Linked DNA regions of Homo sapiens: region 1 is linked to region 2. Evidence: fine-mapped expression QTL. Tissue or cell type: cerebellar hemisphere. Region 2 holds a variant in brackets; the other region holds the start of a gene. All regions are shown on one strand. Distances are between the middles of the regions.

Region 1 (5,373 bases), 500 kb after region 2:
AACTCAGCCCCCTGGCATGCAGACAGGCCCTTCAGCAGCATCTGCACACAGGGCAGTTACCACAGAGGTCAGCTGCACCCCACCTCCTGCCCCTGTCATCCCAGATAGGTCCTGCAGCTCCAGCCTCTACATGCTGGAGTGTTTCTAGAGAAACACTTTCTGCCGCCAACACCCCCACACCCTCCTCTCTGCCTCTGCAAAGTCTTCCTGTGATGCTCCTAGGCCAAGCAAGTGGCTCTTCTGTCACCCAGAGTTCTAGAATGTCCTGTGTCCAGGGCAATCTCTGGCACACAGCAGATGCTTAAAAGATACTGGTTGAATGAGTCCTGACCATACCATTAACCCAGCACTCACCAAACTGCCCTAAAAATGCCTGTTTGCAGCCGGGCGCGGTGGCTCACGCCTGTAATCCCAGCACTGTGGGATGCCAAGGCGGGCGGATCACCTGAGGTCAGGAGTTCGAGACCAGCCTGACCAACATAGAGAAACCCCATCTCTACTAAAAATACAAAATTAGCCGGGCGTGGTGGCACATGCCTGTAATCCCAGCTACTCGGGAGGCTGAGGCAGGAGAATCACTTGAACCCGGGAGGCGGGAGGTTGCGGTGAGCTGAGATCACACCATTGCACTCCAGCCTGGGCAACAAGAGCGAAACTCCGTCTCAAAAAAAAAAAAAGGCATGTTTGCTGTCTGTCTCCACGACCAGACCACACCAGGTGCACGGTTCCCTCATCCTCGCCTCTCAGCACCACAAGCCCCGGCATGCGGCGCGCGGCCACAGTGAGTGCTCAACGCCAGGCCCATGGCAGCCCTGGGAGCAGCCGCCCAAAGCCTCCTCAGGCGGCAGCGTGTCCTGCTGAGTTACTTAAACCTGGAAACCACTTGACGTCAGCTGTTCGTAATTTTTAAAAAGTATTAAAGTGCTTTTACCACATCAAAACACAACTACCATATTTTTCAGAAGAAAACACACGTCAGCACATTTCTCTGACATCATGATGAACAGCATCATTTTTCTTTTATGCATTCAGAAAAATACGTGCAAAAATGACAAAAACCTGAAATCAACCTCATGGCTCCAAATCCCAACGTCAAACCAGAGTTTAGCGACGGACGCCAACCCCTGAGAGTCACAAAGCCTTCCCTCACTTTTTTTTCTTAACCAACCAAACAAGCAGCAGTGACCCCTTTGCCTTCGAGGGCCACTCAGCTGACCAAGGGCAGCCCAGACGCTGCTGGCCCCCACCCAGCCCCCAGGCCGAACAAGCACCCAGAGCACACGCAATGCCCTGACATACCCAGCACACCAGGACTGGGATCCAGTTCCTCAACCCGCAAAGCTCCGTAGGGGAAAAGTGCCTCACAACGCAACAAGAAGCTCCTCCCAAGGGTCTCAACACTGAGCTGTGAGTCCCTGGGGGACACTCGGGAACTCCAATGGGGAAGAATACAGTGCGTTAGGAAGCCAGTGGGTGGGGAAGTCTATGCCCCACGGACACAAGGGCGGGACACAGGAGGTGGGTGGACGGCACCAGCCCCGTAGGGCATCTGTGAGCTCTGCCACGGGCTCCCAGTGTTTTGGAGCCTGAGAAGGAGACTGACCTGTGTGGCAAGAAACTATAAGCAGCTTATATAAAAATGTGGACTGGAAAGCCACAGCAGCCTCCCCAAAGGAAGCCCGACAGGAAGCGGGGCAGGAGGAGCAGGTCCTTAGGGAAAAAGGCAAGAGGAAGAGGGAGGACTGGGAGGGGAGCCTGCACAGGTGGCTCCGCAGCCCCCCTGGGCCACCACACAGCCACGCTGACCTCTGGCATCATGGCCTCCAGCAGGCTGCCCACCCCTGGCTCCCCAGCGCTCAGGTCATGCCTGAACTGGCCCTCAGGAAGTGGGGGGTTCCTGGTGACCACAGGTGCCCACCCACCCCAGGGCTTCTCCAGGACAGGTGGGGGGAGCCAGGATGGACGAAGGCAGGGCAGGGGCAGAGCTGCACAGGGGGGACCAGTAGGAGGCGGGGCTGCCACAAAGAAAAGGGGGGCAGGGGGCAGGTGTGTGCAGGGCAGGGCCAGGTCAGGTGAGGCTAGGCAGGTCACCAGGGGCAGGTGTGCGGGGCAGGTGTTTGGGGTAGGTGGGGCAGGCTGGTCACCTGGGGCAGGTATGTGGGGCAGGTGTGCGGGGCAGGTAGGGCAGGCCGATCACGTGGGGCAGGTGGGGAAGGCTGGAAACGTCGAGCAGGTGTGCGAGGCAGGTATTTGTGGCAGGTGGGGCAGGCTGGTCACCTGGAGCAGGTACGTGGGGAAAGTGTGAGGGGCGGGTGGGGCAGGTGTGAGAGGCAGATGTGAGGGGTGAGCTAGTCACGTGGGGCAGGTGTGCAGGGCGGGTGGGGCGGGCGGGTCACGTGGAGCAGGTGTGAGGGGCAGGTGTGCAGGGCGGGTGGAGCGGGCTGGTCACGTGGAGCAGGTGTGAGGGACAGGTGTGGCGGGCTGGTCACCTGGGACAGTTGTGCGGGGCAGGCGCGCGGGGTAGGCGCGCGGGAACCGGACGAGGCGAGAGGCCGGCGGGCGCACTTGCCTGCGAAGGCTGCGGCAGCGGCGGCCTCGTCGGGGCCGGGCAGGGCCTCGGCGCCCATGTCCATGTGCCCGGGCTCCGCCGCCATCACCGCCACTGCCGTGACCCGCGGCGTCTCCCGCTCCGCCTCCGAGTCTGCGTCCTCCTCCGAGTCCTCGTCCCTGCTCAGCACCGGCTCCTCCGCCTCGCCTCCTGCCGCGGCCGCGGCCGCCGCCGCCACAGCGGCCGCGGCCGCCACCGCCGCCGCCTCAGCCAGGCCCAGCTGCTTTGCCGCCGAGTCCGAGTCCTCCATCCGGACTCCGCCGAGCCTTCCCGAAGGCGCCGTCCGGGACCGCCCGAAGCGCCGGTCGCGGAGCCCGAAGCGGGGCCCGAAGAGGACGCCCGAGCTGGGCCGAGGCCGCCCGAAGCCGCCGCCCGAATAGGGACCGAAAAGGCAGCCAGCCGCCGAGCAGAGCCGAGCCGAGTCCGCCCGCGGAGCGGAGCCGAGGCGAACAGAGGCTGCCCGAGTAGGAGCCGAACCTGCACGAAGCCGCCGAGCCGAGACCGAGTCCTGAACCGAGGAGGGTCGAAGTTCCCCGAAGTGGGAAGCCGAATCAGTCCGAATAGGTCCGAGTCCTCACGAGGGCTTCCGAGAGACTCGGCCCCTGCTCTCCTCACTGTCCTGACAGGCTGAGGCGGCTGTCGTCCCCGGCCGACAGGGCTGGACGGCTCTAGGCAGATTCTCGCCGGCGGCCGGCGCAATTCTGCCTCTCAGAGAGAGCTTAGTGCCGCGGGTTTCGCCCGTTCCCGCCGCCGGCGGAAGCCGAGTCAGCCCGAGGCCGAGCCGAGACGAGCCGAATGTCCCCGAGGCCGAATGCTCCCGAACGTCGGTTCTCCACCTCTTCCCTTCCGAAAGTGCCCGAGCGGTGCCGGACGGACTAATCGGGCCTCGGCCGTGGCTCGGACGTCCGCTCCCGAAACGCGGCGCGGTCGGGCCCCTTCGTCAGGAGACGCGAAAATGGCCGAAGGAGCGCGAGCGCGCGGGCCGAGAGGCTGCCGGGATCGCGACGGACCGGCGGGCGGGGCGGGTAAGATGGCGGCCCCGCGGCGAGGTGAGCTCGGGCGGGGTGGGGGCTTCCGGGCTTGCAGCGGCGGGCGCGGCGTTTCCCTGTGGTGACAATCCGGTTTCCGCTTTCGGTGCGCTCACGGGGCCGTGCCACCGTCTCTACGTGAGCGAGACAGCTCCGTCACCCCATCGAGAAGCGCGGCCTGGCCTGGCCTGGGTGGCGGGCGTCCTGCACCCCGAAGAGCTCCCCCGCGCGCGGGCGCCTGGCCCCGGGCAGGGTGGGTGCGGAGCGGCTCTGGGGGCCCCAGTCCCCGGCAGCTCTTGTCCCGCGCGTGGTTTTTGTGAAGACACGTGGGCGGGATGGGCGCAGGGTTTCGGTAGCCTTGGAACTCTCGCCAAAGAAAATCGCGGGCGCCGGTGCCTCAGCCGTCCTGCCTGAGAGACTCGCCTCCGAGAGGAGGAAGGGACAGACCAAAGCAGTAAATCGGCCATCCTGCAGAGGAGCCGCCTTCTGCTGTCTGTGGGTACAGCCAGAACTCCCATACGCGGGCGCTGAAGTGCCAAACCTTCGTGCGTGTTCTCTAGTAATTAGGTGCATTGTTTTGAAGGAATAAAGAATGGCTACTCCATAGGCAGGACAGCCTCTAGTAACCAGGTTTGTTTTGTGTATTTTCATTTGGTTAAAAATTAAGTTTAGGTTGGGCGCAGTGGCTCAGGCCTGTAAGCCTGACAGTTTGGGAAGCCGAGGCTGCAGGATCATTTGAGGCCAGCCTGGGCAACATAGCAAGACCCCCTCTATAAAAAAAAAACTGTAAACATCAGCCAGGCGGTGGCGCACCCCTGTGGGCCAAGCTATTCTGGAGGCTGAGGCTGGCGGATCACTTGAGCCCAGGAGGTCGAGGTTGCAGTGAGCCGTGATGGCGCCACTGCACTCCAGCCTGGGCGACAGAGCGAGACCCCCTTCTACAAAAAAAAAATTAAAAATTACCCCGGGGAAGGCCAGGCGCAGTAGCTCACGCCTGTAATCCCAGCACTTTGGGAGGCCAAAGCGGGCGGATCACCTGAGGTCGAGGGTTCAAGACCAGCCTGACCAACATGGAGAAACCCCGTCTCTACTAAAAATACAAAATTAGCCTGGCGTGATGGTGCATGCCTGTAATCCCAGCTACTTGAGAGTCTGAGGCAGGAGAATTGCTCGAACCCGGTGGTGGTGGTGGGGGGGGTGGGGTGCGGAGGTTGCAGTTGGCCAAGATCGCACCATTGCACTGCAGCCTGGGCAACAAGAGCGAAATTCTGTCTCAAAAAAAAAAAAAATTACCTCAGGGAGCCTGTGGTCCCAGCTACGTGGGAGGCTGAGGCTGGCGGATCACTGGAGCCCAGGAGGTTGAGACTGCAGTGAGCTGTGATCAGGCCACTGCACTCCAGCCTGGGCAACAGAGCAAAACCCTGTCTCTAAAAAAACTAAGTGTATACCAAAACAAGATTTCTTAACACATCTTGTCCATTACATCAGGGAAAACACTTGTTCTCTTTCACTTCCATGTTTAACTTCTGCCTGACACAGCTATTCGTAGCCACATTGTGATTATAGTAAGTCACTGACAAAAAATGTTGTCCTGAAAGCCAAGGCTACGTTCGGTCAGAATGAGCTCCTGCAGGTCTGGAATTGTTAGAACAGCGTATCTGGTTATAGCCGCCCTTCATATTAATTATTAAAATGTTACATCACTTAAGGCTTTTATACAGTTTTTCCCCCAAGCCC
Region 2 (8,074 bases):
GCTCATGAGGTCAGGAAATCGAGACCATCATGGCTTACAAGGTGAAACCCAGTCTCTACTAAAAAAAAAAAATACAAAAAAATTAGCCGGGCTTGGTGGCGGCAGCCTGCAGTCCCAGCTACTCGGGAGGCCGGGACAGGAGAATGGCGTGAACCTGGGAGGCGGAGCTTGCTGTGAGCTGAGATCGCGCCACTGCACTCCAGCCTGGGCGACAGAGCGAGACTCCGCCTCAAAAAAGAAAAAAGAAGAAGAACAAGAAGAATCGCAACCTAATTTAGTATAGAAACAAACTGAAAATCTGACTTGGGAATGTATCATGGTAACAAATAGCGGCGGTTCAGCCAATCACATCAGCCGAGTGTCAGTCAATGGCCGGCAGCCAGCTGTTCAAAACAAGTTCCAAGAAGGCAAATCCGGGCTGTAACCAGGTCTGTAACCAATCCAGCCACCTCTATACCTCACTTCTGTTTTCTGTATGTCACTTTTTTCCTCTGGCTATAAATATAACCCGCACATGTTGTGTGGCAGATCATTCTGAACCATTTTTGGTCTGGACTGCTGCCTGATTCTAGAACCACAAAAAAAAGCCAATTAAGATCTGCAAACCCACATTTGTTGTAATTCTGTATTTTAACAGTTGTGCCCTACAAAAGACATTAAGCTGAAATTAATTAAAAATCATTTACGGTCATGATTAGGTCATAAAAAATTGTCAAACATAACAATTCTTCAAAAAAAGCTAAAAAGTATATTTTAAAAATATTGTTGATGGAAAAAAGAGTGCAAAAGTAGATAGGAAAATTATGTACAAAACTAAAAACAGAGGAGAAATTAAAAGTCAAATAATTGCATCAAACTGGAAACCTAGAAAAAATGGGTGATTTCCTAGTAAAAATACACATTAACAAAATGGGCCCTGAAATAAGGCAACTATGAATATACCAATTAGCATAGAAAAGCTAAGAAAGGTCCTTAAAGATCTCCCAGTGGAAAAAGGCCCCAGGACCATCTGGGTCCATAGCTTAGTGTAAGCTGACTTAACTAAATGTGATTTTACACTCGTGCATTGCATACATATGATGGTGGTCCCATGACATAAAAATGGAGCTGAAAAATTCCTTCCTAGCCATCTTGTCATAAGCTCATGGCTCAACGCATTACCTTTTCTCTGTTCTGATACCATGAAAGGAAAATAAATCTCAGGACCCCCAAATCACTAAGCCAAGGGAAAAGTCAAGCTGGGAGCTATGTCAGGCAAACCTGCCCTCATTCTATTCCTAACTAAGATAGCTACAAAGATAAAAAGCTACATACCTCACTCACAATTTGCCCACAAAGAATTTCCTTTTGGACAAAGGACAGACAGCACTCAAAGTCATCCCTCACCTGAGACAGATGCATATCTGATTGCTTCCTCTGCCCTATTATTTATGTAAAAATGCAGATTCATTGAGCCAGACTAAATTGTGTATTCAGTGGAAGGCTGATGAAGGATTCAAAAGAATGCAACCTTTTGTCTCTAACCTACTTCTGACCTGGAAGCACCCCCACTTCCTGCTTCCAGTTGTCCCGCCTTACTGGGCCAAATGACTGTACATCTTACACGTCTCATGTATCCCTAAAATGTACAAAAGCAAGCTCTACCCTGGCCACCTTGGACACACGTCGTCAGGACCTCCTGAGGCTGTGTCATGGTCGTGTCCTTAATCTTGGCAAAATAAGCTTTCTAAATTGACAGAGACGCGGCGCGCCGGCGCAGGCGCACAGAGGCGCGGCGCGCGGGCGCCGGCGCACAGTGGCGCGTCCCCTGGGGGGCGGGGGGAGGCGCGGCGCAGGCGCAGAGACGCACGTCGTTAGGCTGTGGGTTTGGGGGGAGGTGGGTGGTGCAGACGCAGAGTCACGCGCCACCGGGACGAGAGCGCGGGGGTGGAGCGTTGTAGGCGCAGAGACGCACGTCCTCGGGGGCGCGGCGCAGAGACGGGTTGAACCTCAGTAATCCAAAAAGCCGGGCTCGGGCGCCCCCTGCTTGCAGCCGGGCACTACAGGACCCGCTTGCCCGCGGTGCTGTCCCAGTGCGCCCCCTGCTAGCGACTAGGGCAACTGCAGGGCCCTCTTGCTTACAGTGGTGGCCAGCGCCCCCTGCTGGCGCCGGGGCACTGCAGGGCTCTCTTGCTCGCAATATAGTGGCGGCACGCCGCCTGCAGGCAGCTAGGGACGTTGCAGGGCCCTCTTGCTCACAGTGTAGTGGCAGCACGCCCGCCTGCTGGCAGATGGGGACACTGCCAGGCCCTCTTGCTTGCAGTGTAGTCGGGGCACGCCCTCTTCTGGCCGCTGGGGGCACGACAGGATCCTCTTGCTCACAGTGTAGTGGCAGCACGACCCCTGCTGGCAACCAGGGCACTGCATGGTCCTCTTGCTCATGGTGTGGTGCCCGTACGCCGCCTGCTGGCAGCTGAGGACACTGCAGGGCCCTCTTGCTCACAGTGTAGTCGTCGTACGCCCCCTGCTGGCAGCTGGGGACACTGCCGGACCCTATTGCTGTCGGTGTCGTGGCAGCACGCCACCTGCGGGCAGATGGGGACTAGGCAGGGCACTCTTGGTCCCGGTGTGACGGCCTCCTGCACCACTAAAGTCAGAGCGCCAGTTATTAAGCCCCATCAGTTCTGTAAATTCAAACTGAAACGGAGCTATTATTGGGGAGAGCTGATGTCCCAGTTCTTGTTTAACTTGGAAGAAACATTTTCACCAAGAGGCAATACAAAGATGGCAGATAACTTCATTGAAAAGAAACACAGTGTAAAGAGTTTATTGTAGAAAAATAGGGAGGAGTGGGCTGAGCGTGCATTAAAACAGCCTAAGAGTCCTGTGCAGGGAATTTTATTTTGGATTTCTTCACATTCCTGCCTCTGTCTCAAGTCTCCACCTGTTTTCTTTGTCTGGTTTTCCTGCTACTGCCTTAGCTCCCCAACTTGCCCCACTTAGGCTTGTGGGACCTCCTCACTGTTGGTTGAGGTACATGTGTGGTGATCAATACGAATCCACTCTGGCACCAGCCTCCTTCCCGCCATCCCAGGCACACTGACAGCGATCACGTTTGTACCTACTGCGCCTGCCTCTTTTGAATGTCCTTCTCTGCCCTAATCTGTACTTATGGTGCCAGGTTTCTCTTAAGAATGTCCCCTTTGGCCTTATCAGCATGTAGCTAGCAATATTCTGACATTTTTATTGCAGAGTGAATGATTGGGGCATCTTCAGAGGAGTTCTAGGGTGTTTCTTTCTGCATAGGTACCTCTTTTCCCTCCTACCCACAATTGACAAGTGCCCATCCACTCCAGCACTAGAGATGCTACTAATATGTGAATTTTTGGTGGTCCCTCCAGGTGAGCCTTCCCAGACTTTCCCTTTTCCAGGAGGCCCCCTCCTGTTCATGTCTAGCTACCTATCTACTCTAACAAAGCCCACTATCCTGTGTCTTTCCCAAAAATAGTGAGGGAACGATTAATTGGAAACCATAAGAAATGATATGGATATAGACGAAAACTTTACAACTTACACAAATAATCACTCAAAATCATCCTTACACTAAAAATGCAAAACTATACAATTTCTAGAAGAAACAATAGAAGAAAAGCTATCTGCCTTTGGGTTTGGTAATGAATTTTAACAAATGACACAAAAGGTAGATATACACAAAAGAAGTGACAGTGTGGATTTCTTAATATTTAAAGTTTATACTCTGGAAGAGACCTTGTTAAGAGAACAAAAAGACAAGCCACATATTGAAGAAAATATTTGCAAAATACACATCTGAGAAAGAATTTGTCTTCAAAATATATAAAAAATTATTAAAACTAAACAATAAGTTAAACAGCCCAACTAAAAAT[G/T]CACACACATCTGAACAGACACCTCACCAAAGAAGATCTACAGATGGCAAGTAAACACATTGAAACCACAATGTGGTTACAATTGAAAACCACAATGAGATAGCACAGCTGGTCTATATCTGTTAGAATTGCTAAACTCTTTTAAAAATGACAAATTGCTGAAGGAAAAACAAGAACTCTTTTCATTGCCAGTGGAACACAGCGTATAAGACCAAAATACGCCACCCCAAAACCTAACCCTAACCCTAACCCCTAACCCCTAACCCTAACCCTAACCCTAACCCTAACCCCTAACCCCTAACCCTAACCCTAACCCTAACCCCTACCCCTAACCCCTAACCCTTACCGGTGACCCTACTGTATCCCTGACTCCTAACCAACGTTGATCCCTAACCCTAAACCCCTTACTGTAACTATAATCTTCATCCCACCCTATCCCTAGCCTTAGTGCCATCCCCCAGGCTTTTTCCAGGATGGGATTTTATGTGATTGTTTCGAATAGGTGGAAATCTCTGCTCATTTAGGAGTCGTTCAATGTAACAAGGATCTTGGTCTTCACAGAGACCCTAAACGCGTGTGGCCCAGGGCCATGTGGATGCCATCAGCCACTAGGTGGCAGCAGGGGCCCTTTGGATTTGAACAATGCAGCTCAGTCAGAGGGCTGGACTGGGACACCCCTACTCATGGTCTCTCTTGGCATGGTTTTGTTTGGTGACTCCAGGTGTCCCAACCTCCTGTGTCCATTGTAATATGTCCTGGGACCATCTCCCCCAGGGCCTTCAACCTGGGGGGTTGAACCCCAGGATAGCAACCCCAAGCCCTCCTTGCTATCCTGGCTACTGATGGAAGATGTACCTCAAGCCTGTCCCATTCCTCACTTCCTGCTGAGACCTGGCCCCAACATGGCCAGCTCTATGTTCCTCAGACCCTCTCAGGCCACCTTCTCTCTTCTAGGCACTGTCACTGGGCTTCTCCCCACCCCATAGATCCACAGCCCCCAGGTAGTCCTACAGCTGTGTCCACTCGTGCAGCCTGCACCCCCTTCCCCTACTCGGCCACCCCATCTGAGTAGTAAGGGGCCCCTGCCTGATTGGAGACCCCCAGATGCAGACCCAGATCACACAGCACACTGATAAGAGGAGGGATTCGCACCTTAAAAGAAAGGCGTGGGACCAACCCCAGATCCCACCACTCTCGGCCTCAAGGGCAGGCATGACTAGAGGCCCTTGGTGGCCAGGACCCACTGCCTTCTTCACCGATCAGTTGGCATGGCCTCTCACCAGTGTTCCCTCCTAACACACCTGTTCTCTCTCTCACACACCCTAAAGCCGCTTGCCAACCACCTGTCACACAGCCACTCCATGCCTGTTGCTGCTTGGCACCCACTGGGGGCCAGGGATGTGAACAAACCTCATCTAAGCTGGCTGCCGGGTCCTAATGGGCAGGTCCGGTCCGCCCTCTAGGAGAGGTGCTGTCCGGTGAGGCATAAAATCCCGGGATTCTGGCTGGAGGCAGCTCCTGAGACTGCTGGCATGAAGGGGAGCCGTGCCCTCCTGCTGGTGGCCCTCACCCTGTTCTGCATCTGCCGTGAGTCTGTGCCACTGGGGTTTCCAGAACATTCAGGGGTGGGGGGGAGTGGGGGGTACCTGAGAAGGTAAAATCCTGGCATCGGGCCTCTGCAGTGAACACTCCACCTGCTTCTGTCACAGAAGTGGGCAAGGACCCTGCAGAACCCGCGCCCACCCTACTCCACCCCAACCAAGGACAAAGCCCAGCTGACCCAACACCAGCCCAGTGTCTCCTACCCCAGCCCAGTCCAGCCTGACCTGACCCTTCAAGCCTCTGGTCATAATAGCCTCTCATCAGGGGAAATTTCCCCCACACCAGGAGCTTAACTTTCCTTCCCTGGTGATCCCAGGGAATGCTGAGTGGAAATTGGAGCAGCTAAGATTAAGGGGGATGTGGAGGGGTCTTCGGGCAAGGTGGAGTTGGAGGTGTTGTGGAGGAAGCCCTGGGGAGGAGAGGTGGGCATTGAAGGGGAAGGTCTGGAGACCATGGAGGTTGGAGCCCTGGGGCAGGTCCAGGGCTGTGGTTGCACCAGAGTCACCCTGTCCTGTCCTGGCATCATCTCGCTCGTGATGCAGGGATGGCCACAGGGGAGGACAACGATGAGTTTTTCATGGACTTCCTGCAAACACTACTGGTGGGGACCCCAGAGGAGCTCTATGAGGGGACCTTGGGCAAGTACAATGTCAACGAAGATGCCAAGGCAGCAATGACTGAACTCAAGTCCTGTATAGATGGCCTGCAGCCAATGCACAAGGCGGAGCTGGTCAAGCTGCTGGTATGAGGGCGGCGGGCACCCCATTTTCTAAAGATCTGCAGCCTTACCAAGACCACCCAACACAGCACCCACACAGCCTACCCCACCCACAGACATCCACCACCCACAGACATTGCACCCGCATCAGCCAGCTCAGGTGGACACCCCAGACCTCCTGTCCACCGAGCAGCCCCCAGACTCCATAGACCTCCTCCCCAGTCTGTGGGATACTCCTCCATGCACACATGTGAACATACACAGAGATCCAAACACAGGTGCAGACATGAAATGTACACTGCGTGCACACATGTATAAACACGTTCACACCCACATGCTCACACTGGGATATGCACACACATACATGTGTGCACACCATCACATGTGCACACACACCTCCCAGCTGCTGGGAGGAGATAGGCAGCAATATGCCAGACCCCCCCCCACTGAGGGCCTTGCTTGCCTGATGGAGCTGTGGCTCTCCACTTATTGAGCACAGCCCTCTTAGTCCACATGTGTCTGCCTTCCAGGTGCAAGTGCTGGGCAGTCAGGACGGTGCCTAAGTGGACCTCAGACATGGCTCAGCCATAGGACCTGCCACACAAGCAGCCGTGGACACAACGCCCACTACCACCTCCCACATGGAAATGTATCCTCAAACCGTTTAATCAATAAAGCCTCTTCCGCAGCTCAGGCTCCTGTCTCTGCCCCCACAGAGGGGCACACAAATGGGGACATCAGGAACACACTCGGGGCCACAGCCACACACACAGACCCACATACAGAGGATCCCACTCAAGGAGCACACGTGCGAAAGTCCCCACAGAGGGACACACAAATGGGGACATCAGGAACACAGGGCCACAGCCACACACACAGACCCACATACAGAGGATCCTACTCAAGGAGCACACGTGCGAAAGTCCCCCACAGAGGGACACACAAATGGGGACATCAGGAACACAGGGCCACAGCCACACACACAGACCCACATACAGAGGATCCCACTCAAGGAACACACGTGTGAAAGTCCCCACAGAGGTACACACAAATGGGGACATCAGGAACACAGGGCCACAGCCACACACACAGACCCACATACAGAGGATCCCACTCAAGGAACACACGTGTGAAAGTCCCCACAGAGGTACACACAGGGTCCACACAGGAGCAGGCACACCACAGGCAAGACCCAAAATGGAAATCCAGGCAGACGCCACGTAGGCAGGTGGACAGAGCACAGAGCCAGACAACACTGCGTGGTCGTCCGGAGGGGGCGTCTGGAGGGGGCGTCCGGAGGGAGACGGGCGGCAGAGGCAGCGGTATGAGGTGGGAGCCCCAGAAAGAGGAAGTGTCCAGGACTGGGTGGACACAGACCCCATGTCGCCCATGGGCTAGGTCAGGGCGGGGGTGCTCAGCATCTGAAAGCTGGTGTCGAGCCCCAAGAGGACCCCTGACAAGGCCAAGAAAAAGGTACACCCATGTCCAAGGGGGTTGGGAGCCGCAGGTGAGCAGCCTCTGAGGTCAGCCAGGGCAGCCCCAGCGCCCACACTGACTCACACCCACCACAACCAGCACAGACCCTGATCCTGACCCTGGATCCCAGACTCTCCCACAGCCAGAACCTTCCAGCATTTCAGCTGCCCAATCTATGGTCTCTTCTGGGGGCACAGCTGAGTGGAACCGCCCCATCCTTGGCCACCCTGGGTGCTGAGCCCTGACACTTCACTGCCCCGGCCCTCCTCTCCACACCTCTGTCCTGTCTGAGCCTGGCAAGGGGGCCATGCGGTGCTGTCGGCTCTGTGCTCTGTCCCACCTGCCTACATGGTATCTGCCTGGATTTCCATTTGGCTGAGGGAGCCCTAGGGAG

Evidence for each region. PIP is the estimated chance that this variant, and not a neighbour inherited with it, causes the effect.
Region 1: it holds the start of DEAF1, and the variant in region 2 is fine-mapped to the expression of DEAF1 in cerebellar hemisphere (GTEx, PIP above 0.99).

Annotation. Positions count from the first base shown.
Region 1 is chr11:692,190-697,562 of GRCh38, forward strand. It overlaps DEAF1 (DEAF1 transcription factor), which reads right to left and starts at 3,033. Exons shown (of 12, transcript NM_021008.4): 1 at 2,570-3,033. The coding sequence starts at 2,858. It overlaps TMEM80 (transmembrane protein 80), which reads left to right and starts at 3,627. Exons shown (of 5, transcript NM_001042463.3): 1 at 3,627-3,657. The coding sequence starts at 3,639. RefSeq lists silencers at 2,405-2,654, 2,675-2,794, 2,805-3,104, 3,605-4,024 and enhancers at 2,470-3,009, 3,010-3,551, 3,552-4,091, 4,632-5,171.
Region 2 is chr11:187,684-195,757 of GRCh38, forward strand. It overlaps SCGB1C1 (secretoglobin family 1C member 1), which reads left to right and starts at 5,395. Exons shown (of 3, transcript NM_145651.3): 1 at 5,395-5,471; 2 at 6,029-6,228; 3 at 6,735-6,892. The coding sequence starts at 5,417. The coding sequence ends at 6,767. The variant G/T (reference allele first, on the strand shown) is at 3,885.